Linked DNA regions of Homo sapiens: region 2 is linked to region 1. The links come from fine-mapping of genetic effects on gene expression. Tissue or cell type: spinal cord. Region 1 holds a variant in brackets; the other region holds the start of a gene. All regions are shown on one strand. Distances are from middle to middle.

Region 1 (8,179 bases):
CAGAGTGTCATCATGGCTTTGGCTCTCTGGTTGTCTCTTGGTCAGGCTCTCCTGCTATGCTGTATGACAAAAGCCATTGGCATCCACAGATCACACAGTATTAGCTATGGAACTCCAGGGGAAAGGTACCATCTTTCCCAAGTACCTTCTGGAAAGACTTGGTGGTGTCCAAATGGCCTGGCTTCCGTCAGGTGCCTAGCCCCGAGCCAATCCACCCTGGCCAAGAACCTGGGGTTACTCTTGGCAAACGTGGTTCTCATGCCCATTCTTGTGACTGTGGGTGGGTTCCAACCTATCTAATCTACTTAGAATAGCGCAGAGTTGGGTAGTTGTGACAAAGACTGTGAGGCCTGGAAAGCCTGTAATATTTATGATCTGGCCTTTTACAGAAAAAATGTGCTACCCATTTGGTAGGTAAGATAAGCCCGTAAATAGGGCCACCTTCATGAATGTGCAGTCCGAGTGGTCACACAAGGCCTCACAGCTAGAAGGGCCCATGGTTGGTTTAATGCTCTGCTATCACCGTCTTTAAATTCTTAACAATTTATGAACAAAGGTGCCACATTTTCATTTGCGGTCTCTTGAGTTACTCATAGACTAAACGTTGAGGGATGAGAGGGATTTCCCAGAGGAAAATGCCCTGAAGAAAGGGCATGAAGCGGGAATCTGCTTTCTGTTCCATGTGAGTAACAGAATACCTGACCCAGAGTGACTCAGCAATGAGGAGCTTATTGTCTCACAGACACAGTCACCCAGAGGTGGCACTGCTAGGTGAGGCTAATTTAGCAGCTGACAGCACCTGCATCCTGGGCCAGCCTTTCTGCAATTCTCTGGGCTTTCTCCTAGTCACAGGTGATGGAAAGCTCCAGTTCCAAGCATCACATCTTCACCCAACAATGTCTAATGGAGGGGAAAGGGAAGCCATGTTTCCTCCCTTGTATTACGCTTCTTGTTAGGGAAGAAAATGTTTCTAGAAAGTTTCCCAGCAGATCCACTGACTGGAGCTGGCTGCCAGGGGTGGGGAGATTTCCATTTCTAGCCTCTGAAGTAGGAGGTGGCTTCTCCATGAGGAACCAGGGGCTGGAGATAGGAGCTGGGGGTTCAGCAGCCAAAGCATTCGCCACTGGCAGCCTTGCATTGGCAGCTCCTACTGTGAATAATTTGTTGCAGAATTCCTTCAACTCCTGGGTGAACTTCTGGGGACATTGAAAAGATGACTTAGTTTGGTTCACACACACACACACACACACACGCGCGCGCGCGCACTCACTCTGATTTGCTTGATTTCTCCAAGAATACATCTACCACAGAGAGTGAAGTCCACCACAGAGGGTGAAGTCCATCACAGGCAGCCACACTCCCAACACAGAACTGGGCCATAGCACAGTCTCTGTGGGTCACACTCTCACATTGCCCAAAGTTATGAAACTTATTTTTTTAAATAGTTCTGCTAAGCAGTTTCTGAAGAATTTGTGGGAGTAGGAAGGAAAATTTTACCTCAAAAGATATTTGATCAGATCCTGTCAGATAAGCAAAGGGTATTTAGGGTATGTTTGTGAAACATGATTTCTTATCTAAAAATTGAACAGCTCTTCAGTAAAATGGTATTTGATGCTTTGATAGAGTTTATGCCCAAATCATTTTTCTTCCTGACTTCTGTATTTCTGCGTGTTTATGCTTCTATATTTATTCAAAAAGAACGTCTGAAATGTGTAAAACATAATTTTTCTTGGCTGAAGCACCTCCATTCCACACAGGAATTTCACTATACTTGCTTTTTATAAAATAAAACGTCTGTTGCAATATTTACCTTAAATATGATTTTAGTAACAACTGAACCAAGCTATTTCTTCTCCTTCAGACTATAATTCTTTCCAATAGGTGTTGGTAGGAAGGCATAGACATATTAATATGCATGTCAAATAAAGAATACTTTCTAGTTTCTTATAGGAAATTACTACTACAATCCCTATAGATTAAATAAAATGTACACTCTGATTAGTTATTAAGGTAAGAAACTTTCAGTTTAGAAATAAAGGTTTTTTGTGGTTTTTACTGAATTAAAAACCTGACCATCGCTGTCTCCATAATTCATTCTTCCTTCCTTACTCCTTCGCTGATGACAACTAGTTGGGCACCTGAACTTTCACAAAAGATGTCCAGTTAAAAGGAGCCAGTATGGAACTTTGTACACAATTTCCCCTGTATTCTACTATCTGCAACAATGTGAAACTTTTTAATTTTAATTTTTAATTTCAATGTGAAATAAAAAGTCTTGAAAGGAGACATTTTTTTCTTTCGGTGGTTTAAAGATCGAGTCTCACTTTGACCTTCGGAAAAATGTTAGAGCATTTCAGAGACACGTACGTCTGCGAACCTGCAGTGATTTGGGGACTTTATACAACTTGAAGCCACTTGAGTTCTGTAGACACTCAGAGATTATGAGAATTCTGTTGATATGAAGCTCTTTTGCCTCTTGGCCCCGGCAAAATTGTACGTTGTGAGTAGTTTGTATTTTTAGTTGAAGGTTTTGCTTTGGAGTTCAACTGCAATTTTACTTTCGTTGTCATCTTAAATCTGTAATTTTGAGAGAAAGTTTTTAAAAATATCTTCAATCCACTGCAGCAATTATTCTGACTGCAGAGTGACCTTTATCTTCTTCTGGTTAAAGAGAGAGAGAGAGAGAGAGAGAAGTAGTAGAGCATTTTGGGGTTTTTCAAACCCTCGGATTACAGGGTAGGACACCTCAAGATACAAAAGCAAGATTTTCAGACTTCGTAATGTCATTGGATAGTCATTAAATTTATACAAAATTACAGTTCAGTGAACTTAAGGATAGGCTGAAAAAGGTAAAAGTGGTAATAGTCAGAAAGGCTGAAATCTGGAATCAATTAACTGAAAACAAATTAACCAACAATTATGGTATGCCCTGTTTATTTTTCTAAAGATCTTGAAATAAAGCAAAAGTTTTCCACAGGTACTAATAGCTAGAAACCCATGGGAATAAGTTTCGGAGTAGAACTTCCCCACATGGGGTGGATCTCCAGCCACAGTGGAAGAAGAATCGACTGAGATGTTTGGAAGTTTTAATTGCCAAGGCATTAAGACAAGAGTGAATGGAAGTGGACAAGGAGGCCTGGCACTGGTGCTGTACATCCTGTGCGTTGCAGCCCCAGAGCCTTTCCACTGGACGAGCTCTGACCTTGCAAAAAGAAGGCCCGCCCATTCTTTCCCTGGACGTTCTTTATGTGAACGACAACG[T/C]TGCTGAACTAGCCTGCTGCCTCTCTCTGGGGCAGGCCTCTCTGCTCGAGGTAGAAGGTCTTGCTCAGAGCCAACACCTCTCTGTTTTTGTTTCTGCCTGGTCTTTCTTTCTATCAATGGGAGCACCTCGGTTCTCTGGGTTCTTACCACTTCCCTTTTTCTTTCTTCATTTCACCGTTGTATCTCCAGGTCTTTGATCCACTCTAAGAATGGCTTCTCAGCTCTGTTCCTTGTCACCACCACTCTCTCATCTGGTGACTACATCATGTCTTCCCTGTACATTGCCAGTTCCCCATCTCCCAGGGCTGCTGTAATGAAGCACCACAAACTGAGTGGCTTCAAACAACAGAAACTCGGTCTCTCGCAGCTCTGGAAGGCAGAAATCCTAAATCCAGGACTTGTGACTTCTGGCAGGGCCACGTTCCCTCCCAAGGCTCTGGGAGGAACCCTTCCTCGCCTCTTCCAGCTTCTGGTGCTTGCCTGGGGTTCCCTGGCGTTTTTGGCTCGTGGCAACAACACTCCAGTCTCTGCCTCCCTTGTCACTTGGCCTTTTCCCCTGTTTCTCTTCTGTATCTCTGTTTCGTCTCATGGCAGCCTCCTCTCTGCGTGCCTGTGTTCAAATTTCCCTCTCCTTGTAAGGCCCACACTACTCCAGTATGACCTCAACTTAGCTTGGTTACGTCTGCAAAGAACCTATTTTTAAATAAAGTCACCATCACAGGTGCCGGGAAGTAGGAGTTAAACGTATCTTTTTGGAAGGACGGTTCAACCCACGGCACACATCATGTTATCCTTTCTCAAATGATCCCTTTTTCTCACTCCGTTGTTCAATAACCATTTGGCCTGTGGAAGAAATTCTGACTACTTTAGCCTGATGCTCATACTCTTTTCCAGCCTGGACAACCCCACCTTTCTAGGATCACGTCCTATTACCTCCCATATGAGAAATTTATGCCCTGCCCAGACTGGTCTACTGTTTCTAGAACATTCCATGTGCCATTTACAATATCTGTGCCTTTGCTTACAGCATCTCTGTTGCTTTGATTTAACCACCACCACCACCCTGCCCCCATCACGTACACAAAATCTAAGTCCTAACAACTCTCCAACGTCCATCTCAAACCACATCCTGGGCTCTTTCTCTAGAGTCTTGGAGACTCCAACCTATTGAGAATCCTCTCTCCTTTGAACATTCTGAACCATTTAGAGCTTCTCATCTGGTGCTTTGTTGCTGCTGATGTTGCTCTTGCCATAAATAGCTAACGTTCCTGGAGAGTTCACTGGGCACCGTAACTGAGCTCTTTGCACACATTATCTTATTGGCACCCCACGGCAGCTCCACAGTGTGGGAACCATTATATCGTGGTGTTGTCGATTAAGATGCTGAGGCTGAGGGAGGCAAATCCCTTGCCCAAGATCTCACCAAGTAGTGGGAGATGGAGACAGGAGTCGTGCTGATTTTTCTGACTCCAAAATTCTGGTTTTTAACCTCCAAATGCTCCTGCTTTTATTGGTGTTGGTTACTGTTCAATTTCATTTTCATAATTAGAGCATAAACTTCCTGAGCCTTGAGACCATACTTGAAGGCATCTGATCGTGTTTGGGGATCAATGTCATGGTTATTAATCTGTTACTCCATTTTCAAAGACAAAAACCATTGAGTTAACTGAAGACCTAGGAAGTCTGGAGTCCTTCCTGCTCCCTCCTAGTGCCCTCAGACCATCCAGTCCCCGTGTGAGCTGCACTTCTTGCCAACCTTAACAGCTTGCACCTGTTCCACCTCATTATGTGGCCCAGGTCAGACCCTGCATGGAAATACCAATTCATAGAATATTCTAATTAATAGAACAGTGAATATTAAAGAGCATCTCGTAGGTGGTAATTGTCTGGTAACTAGTGTGTAAGTCACTGTCCTTCCTTCTGTTGATGGACTATATACATAGGTCATGGTGCGTGTGGAAGACCCCATTGAGTGCCTGTATTTTGTGCCAGTGGGCTTTTGTTTTTGTTAGTCAATCATTTGACCAAAAAGCATTGCTTTGATCAGGTGCACACTGTCTATGTTTGTTAATAGAACAAACCTTAATGCCTTTCTCAAGGTCATGCACAATCTCAATTAGCTAGAGAGACAGGGATAGGATGACTTATTTTAAAAGAATGCATCCTTATTCTTTCATTATCAGGGAATATTACTGACATGTACAGAAACTTTATATGTATTCCATTTGTAATTCTAAATGTTTATTTTTCTCTGATTTAGTAAAATAACTCACTGAAGTCTAAAAATGAAAACCTGGTTTTGTTTAGATGTGTAAGACGGTCCGAGACACACTCTGGGAAGCAGCAGCAGCTTCCCACAGACAGGGTCACATGATGCATGGGGCTGATGACACTTGATGAGCAGAGGTTTATGGGAGCGTTTCTGCGGTAGAATCCCAACGCATTAGCTGGAGGCCAGGAGGGGCTGCGAACTTGACAATATGGCTGAGTCATGGGTAGTCGTTGAAATTGGCTGGTGGCCGTTATGCCTAAAATGACTCATGCACTGCAAGCAGATATGATTGTTGGCATGACTTGAAATGAACACCGGCCATTTCAGCGGGATGGTCAGGCCCGCTGATCTCGATGGTGATTAGGTGGATAAGTTTTCAGCAGGGCTGGGTTGCCTCATCCTCCTGTCATTGTCCAAGGCTTTGAAATCACTTTTTCTTACACTTTACTGAATCATCTAGATAATTGCCCCAAACGAAACCTTCATTCAGGTGGTTAGTCTAAACTTATTGGGGTCTTCAACCTGGTAAGCAGGTAGTTTTAAAGTGAGACTGAGGACTTGACTACATAACTTAAATTCCTTATTCCTAGGGCCCCAAAAGCACAAAGCTCACCATAAAAAGACACAGATGCCCTGAAAGAAATTTCTGGAATCTACAGGCCTTCTGCTCAAGCCTACCTTCCTTACTCTTTGATATCAGATAGTGGTAATAAAATGGGACATATTTCTGATATACTGGGAAAAGTCATTTCTTCCCCTCTTGAAAAATGTTCTCCTCTTTTCTCACCACAGCTGGGAGTTTCTAATATGAATAAAGTGCCAGGAATTTGGCAGTAACAGTATATTCATAAATACACATGAAATTTGGTGGGGTTTAAAGAAAAATAAAATGGAAAGAGCATATTGTCAGGTTTAAGCACAGACCTACCTTGAGATGAAAACTGAGTCTGTTTGTAATGGTTGTTCATTTGCTTTGCAAGGATGCGTGCCAGGCACTCAGCCTCATCCAGAGGTGCAGGCAGAGATCCCCGGCACCCACAGCTGGGTAGGAGCAGCAGGGGAGGTGCTGGATCTCTGTCTTCAGGCCCAGAAACAGAAGCTGCAGGATTCACACGAGCTAAAGGCTACACTGGCCCTGGTTGCACATTTTGCGTCCACAAACCAGATAGCAAATATTTCACTGCAAGAGCCGGTGAAATGCAGAACATATGGCCCCTCCCAATGGCTCCAGGAGCTGGAGACAAATCCAGCATGTGGGTGATGAGACTTGCCGGGCCCTTCTGGTCTCTCTCCTGGTTGTGTAAATTCTGTCGTCTTACACTTCATTAGACCAGAAAAAGGTACAGACCTTCCTGATAGCGTGACCTCCCCTCTGCCATGGCAGGGTTGAGATTCAGTCTTTGAAATGTGTCTACTGATGCCGGAGAGCATGGGCGTCTGCAACGGTGACTGACCCCTCTCCTGTCCTGCATCTGCACCTCCCACAGGGGGCTTTCCAGGGAGGGCCGTGGACTCAAGGGAGGAGAGCAAGGCCCGTAGTGGCTGTCCATCTTGACTGAACACCAGCCCCAACCCATGAGGAGATACCTGGTTTGCATCTTCACGCTTCTTAGGAAACAGTGATGTTAATTTGGAACACATGTCTTTGTGTGGAATGAAGAACTGTAATTTCACATTGAAGCCCCAGTCCCTTCCCTCTCCCATTCCTGCAGTTCACGGAGGTGATGTCACCCCATGCGTGGTGGAGACTTAGGCCTTCCACGTACCACCCGCTGTCTGGGGCTTTCAGGCCTGTGAAGCATTTTCTTGCTTCTTCTCCACTCATAACCTCCCTCCCTTCCCAAAGATGTCCCTACCAGCATCACTTCTCTCTGTCACATGGCCACCTAAGTATCTTTACTTCAGCCTCCAAATTCATTGACTATTTGTTGGGCACCAGTGATATATAAATACCAAATGCAGCCAGGCAGGCTCCTGCATGCCAAACCCAGGTCTGTTTCTCAGGCTTACCTCTGTGTCCTCAGATGCTCAACCATCCGGCCTTCCTTAAATCAGTCATTTAGTTCCCAGCAATGAGAAATTCCCTGACTTCCATTCCATCTTTGTGCTGCTCCTCTTCGGACTCCTGGCTTGGTTGTGCTTCCTCTGCAACCCCAGGAGGGAAGCACACGACTGTCCTCTCCCACAGGGTCACTCACAGTCTTGCTGTGGACCTCCTGTGGTGCACAGCCTCCAGGCTGCATCACCAAAACCCTCAACTTGCCTCCCTTCCGCTCAAGCCTGGGACATGTATCCCGAGCTTGTTCTATGTTCTGGGCACCAGGCTCGGCCTCAGGGATTCGAGGACAGATCAGATGCAGCTGGCTTCTTCCAGAGTTCACCAATGGACTTTGTCCAAAAGATGCCTTGTCACTCCCTGTAGGGGCCCTAGTCAGTGCCCTTTCCAACCAGCTCATCTTTGCTTCGTCATCTCTAAGTCTGTCTTTACAAATAGCTCCTCACCTAGCCATGTCTTCCACACCACCCCTGCCTCCACCTGGGACCGTGTCTTCTTTATCTCAGGTCTGGATTGCACGGCAGATTTCTACTTCTTTCTCTTCTTCCCATCTTAAAGCCACAGCAGCTCCCTCTTACCCAAAATGATGG
Region 2 (8,179 bases), 190 kb before region 1:
TGGCTGCCTGTAAATTCCTGGCTTAGGAAAGTTTGTCTCCGTTTTTCATCTGCTTGTACTCAGAGCAGATTGAGCTTACATGAGCTTGGGTAAGAAATAAGTGCCCTGTTCGTTGTGAATGCCCAGGCTGTTAAACGAAAATAGCACACAGGAAACAGTATTGCAAAGGTCAATTCTTCCAGAAAGGAAGGGACAACCAGCCATCTATCTGAAATTTTCGTGTGTAGATCCTGGCCTCTGACCCCACACCATTACCTAACAATCCAGTATTGAATGTGATGTCGGCTTCCATTTCCTGTGAATGAGGAGGCAGAATTTCCATCCAAAGACAGACCATCTGCCAGACGCAGGATTTGCTCTTTGCCTTAGCTGGCTGTTATTGATGTCTATGAAGGCTTTGTGGAGACAGTGTCAGCCCAGGCCGCTTGCTTCACAGAGATGGTGAATTACAGGGTTGAAATCCAGAGCTTGCAGCCAGGATTTTATTTTTCTTCATTTTTCCTCTGCAATGGCTGTTTTCTTTCGTTCAGTCAGAAACAAATCAAGGACAGTCTTGGGGCACATTTAGTTCTTTGGAGGAAGCTTTGCAACATCCAGGTTTAAAAGAAATTGGACTTTTACAGTCAACATTAACAATTGAATATGAAAGAGCGAAAATAAATTGATCATTAAGAGAAAATGTATACAAGGCCCCCAGCCCAGTGCACAGCACATGTTAGGTCCATTGTGAATAAACCATTTAACCAGTCAGAAGGATCCGAGAGGCCAGTGGCTGGGCTCATCTGCAAGCAAATCTGGCCCTTTGAGCTGGAAGAAAACAATTTTTAATTCTCTTGCGTCGATGTGTCTGAAGTTCTATGGGCCACAAGTATCAGGATCACCTAAGTACTTGCTAAAACTTGTCCTTCCCAGACCTTTCTAATGAGAATCTCCAGTGCAAACGCCAGAGGAATTGAATTCTTAACAGACATCCCAGGGATCAGGTGGGTTGGGAGACATTGCATTATTTCACCTGGTGCTCACAACCACCTGGGAGGTTTGTATTTTACCTTCACTTAACAGCTGCTAAAACTGAAGGTTGGAACTCAGCCTTAAAGAAACAGGCTTTATCTTTAACAGATCTGAGGTTGGGCTCTGACCTACTTCACTGTGTGGTGGTGGGAAAGCTACATCTCTATGCTGCAGTTTCCTCATCTGTATATTCAGGACTTAAAAAATGAAATAATGCAGGTGAAAGACGTTAGCACAATACTCCGATTATACGAGGTATGTAATGAATTATGAAGTAGTAAATAGTCTGTTTTCGTGCTGCTGATAAAGACATACACAAGACTGGGTAAAATTATACAGGAAAAACGTTTAATGGACCTACATTTCCACATGGCTAGGGCAGAAGACATGAAGGGGCAAGTCATGTCTTACATGGATGGTAGCAGGCAGAAAGTGAGAGAGAGCTTGTGGAGGGGAACTCCTCTTTTTAAAACCATCAGATCTTTTGAGACTTATCCACTACCATGAGAACAGCACAGGAAAGACCTGCCCCCATGATTCAATTACCTCCCACCAGGTCCCTCCCACAACACATGGGAATTCAAGATGAGATTTGGGTGGGGACACAGCCAAACCATATCAGTAAACAAGCCTAATCATTATTAACTAGGTTAAGTAACTAGCTCACACTGTCCAATAATGATGATTTATCAGTTTGATCAGAAAGAAAAGTCTTTGAAGGCAAGAGGCTTTCTCGTTTAGTTTCCCAAGTTCTAACATAGGGTTGCTCATGTAGATTGACTGAATGAATGAACAAAAGAAGTACACTGCAACGCTGGTTGGTAGTACGGTTAGATATGACACAGGGCTTGAACCAGGCCTGGTTTCCAGATCTGGTACTGAGATATGGCAGCATTGGGAAGGGGGCTGGAGAGCCTGTGCTTCCCACTAAGGTTTTTTAAAAAGAAAGTCCTGCACCTTGTTAGGAGGATCGACCTGGGTTTTGGGAACACTGCAAAACCTGCCGTGGGAGGGAACTCCTGAGAAAACTCCTCTGCAGTGGGAAGAGATGGTATGGAAGGCAGCTTCCTCAAATGCTGGATAACCGCCTCCTAGGAGTGGGTGCTCCGTCAGGAATCGGTGCGAGGTCGCAGGACCAGGATGGAATTTCTGCAGGTGGTCCTAGGTCTGAGCAGCACAGTAGAATCACCTGAGGCTTTGAAAACTATTGAGCTCCACGCATTGTGGGAAACTGAGTTAACTGGTGTCTGGGGCTGGCAATGTCTTTAACTCTTACTATTCTAATAAGTCCCCAAGGTTGGGAATCATGGTAACCCGCAGGGTGGGCATCAGCCATCCTCCATAGCTCCAGCCATTTCTGTCTGTGCGGGCCCCCTCGCTGCTGCTTTTCATGGTCTCCCTGAGGGCCGAGCGAGGCTGAAGAGGTGGGGTCAGCCCGGAACAAGGATGAGAAGGCAAGGCGCACCATTCTTTCATTGGTGTTTCTCCAAACACCCTGGGCTCCCCTGGCCTCACAGCCTGGAGAGTCTCATTCTGAAAGCGTAGGAGGGCGCCCGGGAATCTTTTTAACAAGCCAACCCAGGTGCTTCTTACAATCAGGAAAGTTTGGGGAACGTCACTGTACACCCTTTTCTGGGTCCAGGTCATGGAATGGAAACGTGAGCCAATCTATCAACGTAAAACCTAACACTGTTGATCAAAAGTAACGCCCAGGTGTCTTGTGCCTGCGAGTCCAAGCTTGTTTCTCGGGCGAGAGATGCCCCTTTGGGCGCTTAGGGCCGGGCGGGGTCGCGCGCCGGGCTGTGGGCCGCGGTGGAGACCTGACCCGCACTCCGAGGGTTCCCAGAGAGCCGGGGAGCGAGTAGCAGAGTCATCGTTTCCAGCTTCAGCCTGAAAAGCTGGACCGTGCCGCCGCATGTGCGCTTGGCAGCCGGGCGCCCCGGGCCCTGCGGCCACATCATCCTGGGGCGGGGACGTGTGCGCTCCGGGCGCCCGGACGCCACTGAGCCACGTCTGAGCCGCCCACCCTCGGGGGTGAGCGAGCCGCGGCTCGGGGCGGGACCCTGGCGGGGGGACCCGAGCGGTCTCTAGGACCCGCGGGACGCCGCCAACTGGCGGGGGTGCGGGGGAGACAATAATTTGTTCCGCGGTAATAAGAACGGTGACTGCTGGCCGTGGATCCATTTCACAGGCCTGCCTTCTCTCACTAACGCTCTTCCTAGTCCCCGGGCCAACTCGGACAGTTTGCTCATTTATTGCAACGGTCAAGGCTGGCTTGTGCCAGAACGGCGCGCGCGCGCGCACGCACGCACACACACGGGGGGAAACTTTTTTAAAAATGAAAGGCTAGAAGAGCTCAGCGGCGGCGCGGGCGCTGCGCGAGGGCTCCGGAGCTGACTCGCCGAGGCAGGAAATCCCTCCGGTCGCGACGCCCGGCCCCGGCTCGGCGCCCGCGTGGGATGGTGCAGCGCTCGCCGCCGGGCCCGAGAGCTGCTGCACTGAAGGCCGGCGACGATGGCAGCGCGCCCGCTGCCCGTGTCCCCCGCCCGCGCCCTCCTGCTCGCCCTGGCCGGTGCTCTGCTCGCGCCCTGCGAGGCCCGAGGTAAGTCGCCGAACTAGGGCGGCTCGCTGCCCGCCCCGCCGAGGGCACCGCACGCTGCGCCTGGGCGCGCCGAGGTCCAGGGCTGCCCCGAGGGGCGACGCGCCCCGGCGCATCTCCGGAGCCCCGGGGCTTGCGCTTCCAGCGCGGCGAGACCGACCCCCCCCCCCCAGGTGCCAATTCCTTGGGGAAGGGCGACACTTGGCCCGCAGCCCCACAGGAGCCAGTACCTGCCCCGGAGGGCACAGCCTCGGGACCGCTCCCCCGTCCTCACCCTCTTGGGTGACATTTGCAGATGTCTCTGTATCTTGACATTTACACGTGTCACTCGGGACGATGCGTGTCGGGTCCTCTTGCTGGCCCTATCCCGCAGTGAATATCCCCACCCCAGGCTCCGGGCCAGCCCTTCACCAGGTTTCCTTTCCAGCCCCGCCTCCCCCGCTAACACACTTAGGGGGGCGCGCAGCGGCCCCGCAGGTGAGGCAGCCCCCTCCTCCGCAGGTGTGCCTGCTGCTCTCCACAGCAGGCTCTATTTTCATAAACTGACTCTCTTACCTACTTCTTTAGTTTCCTCTCTGCCCCTCTTCCTGGCTTCCAGGTCACTCCCTAGCTGTCAGTCGCAGGCAAACTTTAGCGGAATTCTCCCTCCTTCCTCCACTCAGTTTCTCCGCCGTAAATAATCGCCCCCATCAACTTGGTGCACAGCGAGAACTTACTTAGTTTAACGTACTTAGTTTTACAGACTTAGGTTTTCCCGAGTTGTAGCCCCTTAAAATCGGGCACCTGTGGCTCCCGTTTGCACAGTGAGGACTCACCCAGCAGGTGCCTTTTTAAAAATCCGGCAACTTCCCCGGGTCTCCGCCGCCGCCGCCTTCTTTCTGCCGCCCGGGGCGCTGTCGGTCCACCGATGAACGACTTCCCTTGGCCGCAAGCTCTCAAGTTCTGTGATTCTATATAACAGGCATTTATTTTTCAACAACTGGCCTAAATCACGAACCGTTACCACTTTATGATACGTTTTATTTTGCGATTGCCACTGCTGCCCTCCGCCCCCACCGCGTCTACTGTAATGTGGCTAAAACCCAGTTCTTGTTAAAAGCCACACTGCGAAGACCAATTCGGGGATAAATGATTAAATACAAAGATTGCACAAAGCAATGAGAAAGTCAAGAAAGAATCCTGCTGAGGGTTTAAAGAACTCTACGACCTGTAGTGAATTGTGCTTTGAAAGACTTTTAAACAAATTGGTCCTTTTGAATGTTTATTAAGAAAGAACTTTTTAAAAAACGGAAAGTGTCTCAAAGTGTGCCTGACATGGTCTTTAACTTGGCACGTGCTTTGTACACATAAAGAGAAGTCTACTGAGCAGGGACAAATTTTTTTTTTGGAAGAAAATGTTTATTAAATCCAGCTAATAATGGGAAATTATTTCTTGTGTGTGTGGGCGGGGGAGGACTTTTACTATTTTATGAGTTCAGCTTTGGTAGAGAGAGTGTTTCCTTAAGACAGATATGACCCAAAATAGAAAACCAGGGAGGCCTAAGCACTTTGAATGGGTTACCTATTGTGATATATTCCAGGATTCACTGCTTGTTTACCCTTAGATTCTCAGTATCAAGTCTTCAATCAATCAGTGCCCCAAATCATACCATTGAGGCCGTATAAAACGCCAAACATATAATGAAACATTTCTTTGCATTGGCAAGAGAAAAGGAGGAATTACTACCTGTTGAGTCTGAGCATATTCTGAGTTTCTCCCTAGCCTTGTCTGTACCCTGAGCCCTGGCACAGTTGCCTACTTGGTACTTTCTGGGGCAACTCGGCCTAACAAGTCCAAAACAGAACCCTAGATCCCAGACTCTCTAGTTGCAAATCATTCCCTCCCCAGCCTTCCTGAACCCAGTAACAACCTCCTCTGCCTTCTCCACATGCCTTGTGCTGACATGCAGGAAGTCATCCCTGTGTCCCTCTTTTTACTCCGTAAGCCACCAACCTCCTAAGTATATTCCCACCTACCCACTTCCTTACATCCCGAAGTGTGCCTTTCCCAGTCCAGGCCACATTATAGGAAAAATCTCTTCTGCAGAAGCCTCTTATCCCTCTTACCCAACGGGCCTACTGGCTTTTCACCTTATCCCTGCATGGTATATTTTCCTCCACAATAGAGCCAAAGTTATTATTTTCAAACATGAGTTAGAGCATTCAAGTTTCCTGTCTAAAACTCCCCAGTGGCTCTCTAGCACCCTTAGGAAAGAAAATCCAAACCTCAGCATGACCTAATTCCTGTTTTCCTTTCTGATCTCCTTTCTTACCATTCTCCCTTTGCTCACCCTACTCCAGACACACTGCCTTCTCTTCTTTTCAACTACCCAATATAGTAGTGCCATCATTAAAAAAAAATTCAATGTTTGCACTAAGAAGACTTTGCAAATACTTTTCACTGTTTTGCCGTGCAGTGTTTTATGGCATTTCATCCCTCTTGTAACTTTTTGCTTTTCCTAGAGTTAATGATTGCCTTGTCTTGATTTTTGTTTGCTTTATTTTCTGTGCACCAAGCTGTGATATTGTGATATAATAAGAAATATGTCTCTGCCCCTGGTTCCTGGCACAGAACTCCTAAAATCCTTGGAATCTCTGGGGTATTAAGAGTGTCTTTTGTATGCTAATGAGCTTGTTAAGGCATGATTAGAGTTGGGACTTTTAGTGCCACCTCCCTTGCAACCTCCAGGGAGGGGAGACGGATTGAAGGTTGACTTGATCGCCAATGGTGTAATTAATCATGGCTGTGTAATTAGGCCTCCATAAACCCCCCAAAGGACAAGGTTTGTAGAATTTCCAGATTGCTGAGCAAATCAAAGTTCCTGGAGGGTGGCGTATCTAGAGAGGACACAGAAGCTCTGTATCCCTTTCCACATTCTCTGCCCTTTGCATCTCTTCCAACTGTTTTTCATCTGTGTCCCTAATTACATCCTTCATTAATATAATAAACTGGTAAATATAAGCAAGTGTTTTCTGTGGTTCTGTGAGCTTACCTAGCAAATTAACTGAACCTGAGAAGGGGGTTGTGGACCCCCAACTTATAGCTAGTTGGTCAGAAGTATAGGTGTGACAACCTACTACTTGTGATTGGCATCTGACATTGGGGGGAAGTCTTGTGGGACTGAGCCCTTAACCTGTGTGATCTGATGCTTTCTCCAGGTAGATAGAGTCAGAATAGAGTTAAATTGTAGGACTCCCAGTTGATCTCTACTGAAGAACTGGTGGTTGGTGGGGAGAAACTCCCACACATTTGGGTGACCAGAGGTGAAACATTCGGTACTGAGAGTGAGAGTAGGGAGAATACTTGGTTTTTGGTTTTTCCCATCCCTTACGCAACCTCTATTTTACTTCCACACTTTCTGGAAGAACTATCAACCTCCTTTCAATATGATCCAACACATCAGGTAGTCTAGCCATGATTTTTTTTTTCCTGATGTCATCTTTCCTAGAGCCCCTCATCCTCCTGTTCCAATGTGACTCACGGGTTACTTTTTAGGCATACATTACAGCTGTTATCTCAGGACTACCCTTATTACCAAGACGCTAAGAATTCCTCTTGCATCCTTCCTGTGTTGAATCATCTGTATTCTGAGCACTGTAAATTTTTCTTAGTTCATTCCTCATTTCTGTGGAGCACGTTTTCCAGTAACTTCCTGAGGATGGGTGTTGGGAAGATACAACTTTTTTTGATAACTTGTGAATATGTCAGGGATGCTTTCAGCTGCAAATAACAAAAAAACATGACAGCAGCAATTTTTACAAGCTCGTATTCTTTACAAGCAGTTGCAAAGTAAGTATTTTGGTGGCTGGTGTAACTGGTGTGTCAGGTCACTGATGTGATCGGGGACCCAAGCACTTTCTTTTATTTCTATCTGCGATACGTAGATGTTGACTTTTGCCTTTATGCTTACTTCCTCATGGTCTCATGATAGCTGCTGTACCTCTTGGCATCATATCTGCATTCCAGGCAGTAATACAGCAGAAAGGACAAAAGGCAGAACCAGTCAAATCTATTTTCATCAGGAAAATAATATTTCCATAAGCGTTTGTAGTAGATTTTGTCTTAGATATCATTGGCTAGACTGTGACCCAGGGCCCCTGCTAGCTTGTACAGAATACTAGAAAAGTAAATATTTTTAACTATGTACATTGCTGCTTCAAACAAAACAGTTCTGTGAGTAAAAACAAAGGTTGGAATGTGTCTCTGGCATACCTTGTATAAAATATATAGATAAACACACATTCATTCATTCCACCCTTGATTGCTAGTTTGTTTAGGTATAAAATTCCAAGAAAGAAATCATATTTTCTCAGTATTTTATAAGGCATTTCTTCAATGTCTCTATGGCCATTACTGCTTGAGAAGTTGATGGTATTCTGCTTGTCAAACCTTTAAATGTAGTCTTTTTTTCTTTTTGGAAGTGATTATCTTTTTTCGTTGTCACTAGTATTTTTGCGTTTTATGATTATGTGCTTTAGCAATGCTCTTATCAGTAATTGTTAGGAACTCAGTGGGCCCCTTCAGTTTGA

What was found. PIP is the estimated chance that this variant, and not a neighbour inherited with it, causes the effect.
Region 2: it holds the start of ADAM12, and the variant in region 1 is fine-mapped to the expression of ADAM12 in spinal cord (GTEx, PIP above 0.99).

What each region holds. Positions count from the first base shown.
Region 1 is chr10:126,197,013-126,205,191 of GRCh38, reverse strand. The region is part of intron 3 of ADAM12 (ADAM metallopeptidase domain 12); the gene reads left to right. Among named protein-coding and RNA genes, the nearest start is that of ADAM12, 190 kb to the left of the region's middle. RefSeq lists a silencer at 4,581-4,761. The variant T/C (reference allele first, on the strand shown) is at 3,262.
Region 2 is chr10:126,383,492-126,391,670 of GRCh38, reverse strand. ADAM12 (ADAM metallopeptidase domain 12) reads left to right here and starts at 3,194. Exons shown (of 23, transcript NM_001288973.2): 1 at 3,194-3,613. The coding sequence starts at 3,526.